2 linked regions of the Homo sapiens genome follow. The protein of the gene in region 1 interacts with the protein of each later gene in a pairwise test. Each region holds a gene or a part of one and is shown on either strand. Other genes may lie near its edges.

What was found. Proteins that work in one complex are often made in the same cells at the same time.
Region 2: the proteins of RASA4 (region 1) and OVGP1 interact in a two-hybrid assay, tested with the Homo sapiens proteins (one large-scale study listed by IntAct).

The regions. Positions count from the first base shown.
Region 1 is NC_000007.14:102,589,257-102,592,756, forward strand, and holds part of RASA4 (ras GTPase-activating protein 4), read right to left. Parts: intron 3,199-3,500; coding exon 3,029-3,198; intron 1,041-3,028; coding exon 903-1,040; intron 1-902. UniProt on the Homo sapiens protein: Ca(2+)-dependent Ras GTPase-activating protein, that switches off the Ras-MAPK pathway following a stimulus that elevates intracellular calcium. Functions as an adaptor for Cdc42 and Rac1 during FcR-mediated phagocytosis.
Region 2 is NC_000001.11:111,417,736-111,421,235, forward strand, and holds part of OVGP1 (oviduct-specific glycoprotein precursor), read right to left. Parts: intron 1,994-3,500; exon of another isoform or gene 1,992-1,993; coding exon 1,875-1,991; exon of another isoform or gene 1-1,874. UniProt on the Homo sapiens protein: Binds to oocyte zona pellucida in vivo. May play a role in the fertilization process and/or early embryonic development.

The DNA.
Region 1 (3,500 bases):
TGTATTTATTGGCCCATCTTCTCCCAGGGATATCAGCTCCATGAGGGCAGGACTCTGCCTCATCTGCCACTGTATCCCCTCACCTAGAATCATGCCTGGAACCTAGGAGGTGCTCAGTAAGTATTTTTTAAATAAATGAATGAATGAGTTAATGAAGGAACAGATGAGAAGGTTACTTGAGAACATGCACCCAGAGCCACACACAGCATAATGTTTGATTATTAGGCATTGATACAGACACAGAACCACACAGGTGCCAGCTCAGACTTTCTGTTTTAGAGAAAGGGTCTTGCTCTGTTGCCCTGGCTAGAATGCTGGGATTATCCGTGTGAACCAGCGTGCCTGGCCCCCATCTCAGTTATCTGGAAATAGTTTCCAACAAACGGGTGCAACGTGCAAATTTCACATCACGGGGATGCACCTGTCTGTGCACTGGCCCACACACAGACCTACACATGGATGCCCAGGGAAAGACATGGGCCATGGCCTCCTGGGGGCTCAGGCCCCTGGACAACACACACACACCTGTCCCTGACACCTCCCAGATTAGACACACCCTGCGGTGCCTGATGTAGCTGGTAGCGGGGCGAGAAGCTCAATCAACTCTTTTCTCATCCAGTCCACTCAGGCCCCTCCCACAGCACCCAGGCCACTCCCACAGAGCTCAGGCCACTCCCATAGCACCCAGGCCATTCCCACAGCACCCAGGGCATTCCCATAGCATCCAGGGCACTCCCACAGCACCCAGGCCACTCCCATAGAGCTCAGGCCTCTCCCACAATACCCAGGCCACTCCCACAGGACTCATGCCACTCCCACAGTACCCAGGCCTCTCCCACAGCACCCAAGCCACTCCCACAGTGTTCAGGCCACTCCCACAGCACCCGCTCCCCTCCCCGCACCTTGCACTGCAGGTAGGCAGTCTGGGGCCTGCCGGCGTCGTCCGTGTAGATGACCTGCATGACGTGCGAGCCGCCAAAGCTCTTTTCCTCAACCTTTTCCGCTGCCCGGATGTTGGCTAACTTGATGAGGGCGCTTTTCTGGGGCAGGCAGGGAGGAGGAGGCTCAGGGACCTAGCCAGGGGCATTCCATTCCCCATCTCTGGGCCTCAGTCTCCCCTTCTGCAGCACCAGGGGTAGGCATGGGAGACCTAGAGTGACCTCAGCCAGGGCAGAGCACAGACTGATGGTGACCAAGTGCCCAGCAACTGGGAGAGGAGGACCTGGCCTCTCTGGGGGGCACTCCCAGAAGGCCTCGGAGGTGTGAGCTTTGGGGTAGTGTCGGGACAGCCAGCATTCCCTGGGCTACAAAGTCAATCCGGCCGTGGCCAAGGCTTTGTGACTTTGCATTTATTAATTTTCCAACTTGCTTTTGTAGTCCCAGGCTCTAATAGTCATATCCTGACCGGGCGCAGTGGCTCACACATGTAATCCCAGCATTTTGGGAGGCCGAGGAAGGCGGATCACCTGAGGTTGGGAGTTCGAGACCAGCCTGACAAACATGGAGAAACTCTGTGTCTACTAAAAATACAAAATTAGCCGGGCATGGTGGCGCATGCCTGTAATCCCAGCTACTTGGGAGGCTGAGGCAGGAGAATCGCTTGAACCCGGGAGGCGGAGGTTGCGGTGAGCCAAGATCGCACCATTGCACTCTGGCCTGGGCAACAAAAGCGAAACTCCATCTCAAAAAAAAAAAAAAAAATGGGACCAGAATTAAATAATGCCCATGTAGTCAAATCTTTCAACCCTGGCAAGGAAGATGTATAATAATCATCTGAGTGCTTTGGGAGGCTGGGGCAGGAGGATTGCCTGAGGCCAGGAGTTTGAGAACAGCCTGGGCAGCATAGCAAGACCCCATCTCCGCAAAAAAAAAAGTTAAAGAAAATTAGCTGGGCTTGGTGGCACGTGCCTGTAGTCCCAGCTACTCGGGAGGCTGAGGTAGGAAGATTGCTTGAGCCCAGGAGTTTGAGGCTGCGGTCAGCTATGATCGCACCACTGCACTACAGCCTGGGTGACAGAGCAAGACCCTGTCTCAAAAAATAATTATCATCATCTGAGGGGTCTTTGGTCGGAAGGGGCGGGCCCCTCATCTGGTGGGACCCCTGAGCTGGTTGAGAACAGGGTGGGTGATGAGCTCCTTCACCTACTCCTAGCCCGCTCTCACCTGCCCAGGGCTAGGCTGGGTACTCCTGGAAGATCATCCCCATAGCCTGCATGACTGGGGGCAGGTGTACAGCAAGCAGTCACCAGGTCCATGGAGGAAGTATGTCCTCAGCCCTTCCTGGGAGAAGAGAGCTTGCAGGAGAGGTGACCCATGACTCAGAGAGGGCTGTACAAGGTGATCTTTGAGATCCCTTCCCACGCCAAGATTCCGTGCTTCTATATTCCTGCCTCTTCCAGGAAGCCTCCCCTGTTTGCCCTAGCCTCCTACTCATCTAGCAGCCCAGGTGATATACTATCTTTAATAATATCATTTGCCTAAATAGTACTACCTGCCAGGCCCTGGGTCAGGACCCTTAGGGAGATCATCTCATTTAATCCTCAACAACCTGGTAAGGTCGGATCAACTTCCTCCATATTCATTTTTTTTTTTTTTGAGATGGAGTCTTGCTCTGTTGCCCAGGTTGGAGTGCAGTGGCACGATCTCGGCTCACTGCAACTTCTGCCTCCCAGGTTCAAGCGATTCCCGTGCCTCAGCCTCCCGAGTAGCTGGGACTACAGGCACCCACCACCACACCCGGCTGATTTTTTGTATTTTTAGTAGAGACGGGGTTTCTCCATGTTGGCCAGGCTGGTCTCAAACTCCTAACCTCAAGTGATCCACCCGCCTTGGCCTCCCAAAGTCCTGGGATTACAGGCGTGAGCCACCGTGCCCGGCCCTCCTAGGTTCTGACAAGCAGTACAGATGCCACACACCTGGCTTTCTTCTCTGACCCCGGGGGTACCTCAAGTGGGCTCCAAGGAAGGGGACAGGTGCCCCACTTGCCGGCCTCTCAGAGCCCCACTTGCCGGCCTCCCTCCTTACCCACCTTGGAGCTGGGCGTCTTCGCGAAGCTGAGGGCCTCGGTAGTGAGGGAGAAGTAGAGCTTCTTGAAGGAGGAGGACATGAGGGGGCCCTTGCCCTTGGTCCTGTGGATGAAGAGTGGCCCCTCCTTCACAGGTGGCGCCTGCAAACTCAGCGTCCGCTGCAGGTCCAGCTCTGCCAGGCCAGGGAGGGAGGGGAATAGAGAGCCCAGTGAATGAGGGCGGGACTGGGGGGAGCGGAGCAGTGGGAGGGGCCATGGGGCTCAAGGGCTGAGCAAATCTGAACAGCAGGCAGTGGACGTAGTCATGGGGCTCAAGGGCGGAGCAAACATCAACAGCTGGTGGTGAGCGGGGTGACAGGTGGACTGAGGAAGGCAGGGCCATGGGCTTGGAGGCGGGACACGCGTCAGTAGCAGGTGGCGGCGGGGCTATGGAGCTCAAGGATGGAGCAAATGTCAACAGGCGCAGATGATGGGG
Region 2 (3,500 bases), on another chromosome or scaffold:
TAGCCAGAATAGCACCTTGAGTCAGTTTCCATGTCCCAAGGACAATGTGATGAAGGTCAGATGTTCAATTCACCTGCATATGCAGTGGGGTCTGCGCTACAGAGAAGAACTCTGAAATTATGAGACTCAGAGCTTATATAGAATGGTTGACATATGTGGCCCTCCTCCCTTCCAGAGAGAGGAGAGAACCTGGAATGTAAACAAGTCCTCCCTGGGAAGGGGACTTTCACAATCATTGAAGGTAAACAAATGGCTCTGGGGGAAAGAGGAAAGCAGCTCTCTATTTTTAGTAAAGCTTGTCTGCTTCCTTTGCCCAGAATCCTCAAACTGTGCAGGAACTCTGAGAAATCCAGGGTATAATTATCTCCCAACAATAATCCCCAAGGTCTCTTTTAGCTCTGATATTCTATGTCAAAATCCCTTAACCATCCCCAACCTGGCTTCATGTCTCCTCACCTAGTTCTGCAAGTTACAGTAACTGCACCTCAAAGCAAGACCACCCTCTGCTGCTCATCCCAGGGCCTCACCCAACACAAGGGATCAATCCCCTCTCTGATGTCCTATGGGTCATAGACTTAACTCCATCCAATTGGGTAAATCCATTGAGTCATTAATCTTTCCTGTTTGTGTCTTCCCATTCCCAAACCACAGAGCAAGATCCCAGAGGGGAGAAGCCATGCTTTTTTATCTCTCTCCGCCCCAGCAGGCCTCACCCAGTGTTAATGCACAGAGGAGCTACGCAGTGAATCTTCATGAGTGCCTTCCTCTCTGGTGCTTCCCACACAAACTTCCCCCAAAAAACAGCCGACACCTGCCATTTCTGCATCACCGTTAACAGGAGAACTGTGAATTCTCTCTATTTAAGTCTCAATATCCAAGCAGTTGCCACATTCCGACAATTTCTCACCTTTAAACTGCTGCTCCTTCCAACTACCCTAGTCCAGACCCTCATTATCTCATGCTTGGACACCTCTGTGTCCACGCCCAGAGCTCCCAAAATGCCAACTTAGCATTTGGAAGGATCATATATGGAGGCATTCTAAAATAGTTTCCAAAGTTTTTCTAAGACCTACTGAATATTGAGGAGTGGAACCATGATTTCTACATGTATCCAGTCTCTCAGGTGATTCCAAAACAGAGGCAGGTTTAGGAACTACTGGAGCATGTCAGTTCTCTTTTAGTTCACTATAAAAACCTGCCAGATTCAACTTCATAAAATACCACTTACATGAAGGGAGGGTGGTGGTCATAGTTTGGCTCTAAAAGTTTGAAAATTAAAGGTCATCCACCTGTAGAAACCTGTTTTTGCCTTAAAATGCCCACAGGATGAAGACTGAACACCTTTACCAGCATTCAAGTCCCTTTATAAAAAGCCTCTGCTTCACCCAAATTCTTCTTTGAACCTGCTATAAGCTTTCTACACCACTGAGCCTTTCCCCAATGTCATAATCTTCTCCTACTCCTGCTCACCTCCCTCAGGAAGCCCTCCCAGACTTCCTCATTTCTGCTACATGTCAGTAATATTTACAGAGCACTTACCATGATCTACTTTGTGTTGGTATTTATCTGTTATGAAATTAGCTGGTCCAAATGGAAAGGAAGAGACCAAAAAGATCATCGAAAAGCTGTAAGAACTGAGGGAACTATTTATTCCCTCAGAACCTAGATTCTTTCTCTTCAGAATAGAGACTTGGAACAGATGGGATTATAAAGCCCCAGTTAGAACTAAAATGTAGGCATGCCTGAAACCCCTGGTCTAATCATCCTCACCTTTCACTCTCCACCCAATACACATACATGCATTGTACAAATAAGGACCCCATAGAAACCGGTAGGAAACCATGTGCTGGAGCATGAAAGAGCCAGGGTCTCACCTTGTAACTGAAGCTGATGGCATTGTCATAGCCAACCCACTCTTTCCCCTTGTTGGCATACGGGACATACTGGTAATCAATCCAGTGCTTCTTCGCTCCCCAGACAAAGGAACAAATCTGCCAAGAGGACCACCAGGTTAGTTCTGGGAAGTGCCATGGAGATAAGCACCAAGAGACAGTTGTTCCTTGCCCAAGGATAAAGAATCCAAGAATCCCTAACCAGCGAATGAGAAGAAGGTAAACCAAAGAGAGAATGGAGAGGCCACTCACAAATGAGTTCCTCTCTATTTTGAATAAATTCCTACTGTTACCCTTTCCTCTCTCTACTGTCCATGATGGAAAAAAGGGAACCAAAGAGTGGATGACATCCTTAAGAAACCAAGCCAGGGGTATAATGCCAGTACCAAAATAGTAAGAGTAACATACATGATCCTTGACCAAATCTGTATCTCATTCAAAGTGTTTTCATAAACAAGTCTCTCCTGTTCATTAGATCCCAGCACAGACTGCCCCATATAGGTGGTTCTCAAACTAGCACCTGAACTTCTAGTAGATTTAAAGTTCTTGAAGGCAGGGAGAACTAGGTTGCTATAAATAATTAAGCATTTGAGTGTCCACTGAGTGCCCAGCATTGTGCTAAAAACTATATGCTGCAAAAAAGTAGAGGTACGCAAGCTGTGCTGCAGAAGTTAATGTCTAAGCCATTCCTTTTCTCCTTTGGTGCTTCAAAGGGTCTGTCTATCAAAGCTTCTTTGCCCTTCAAGAACATTGTTTCAACTATGCCAGCACTCATAAAAATGCTTCATTGGGTTAGAAAAACACCCTCATCCATCCAGCGCAGAGCAGAGATTGGAGAGACTTGCAGCACCTCCACTACTGCCTAAAGTACTCACCCTGTCCCTCTGTACCTGCTGTCCTCTACCTGGGAAGTCCTTCCCGTCTAGTCATTCCTGTCCATCAGGATTTTCCTGTGCTTCAAACTCTGCTCAAACTCTACCTGCTCCATAAGACCTTTCCAGGTCACTACAGCCACACAGTTATGTGGCTCGTATTGCCACCTCTGGTGGTTACATTCCCTTGGAAACATGTCTCTTTCCGCCACCCAATAGCAAGCTTGGTTGAGACGAAGATGAAGAGGGTAGAGCTGGAGTGGAGAGAAAGAACCTGTAGTAGATAATGTCTTGGAATTGCTTCAAAATCATCTAGTAGTAGGGAGGGAGGGAGCCAGCAGAGATGAGACAAAATTGGCCATGAATTATTAATGATTGAAGCTGAGTGAGTAGTATGTGGGGGAGGTACAGAGGCTATACTATTCTTTTAATTTTGCATATGTTTGAAATTATATATATTGCAAATATTAATGATTTTTATTTAGGCCATACAGAAAGTCAGGGTTTACCTGTATAGCATATAAGATCATTTTTGGGGTGCAATGAAACCCTTCCATCCAGATTCCACCAAGTCCTTCGTCCCTTACAAAGGACTCAAATAACTTACCTCAAAGAAAAAGAAAATATCCCAGAGAGTGGGTTTCTCTTGTACTAATAGACCACCTCTTTGCCCTGTCTACAGCTCTCACCCTTGCCATTGCCCCTTGTCCTGGCCTTTGCTCCAGCTGGGGGTGGG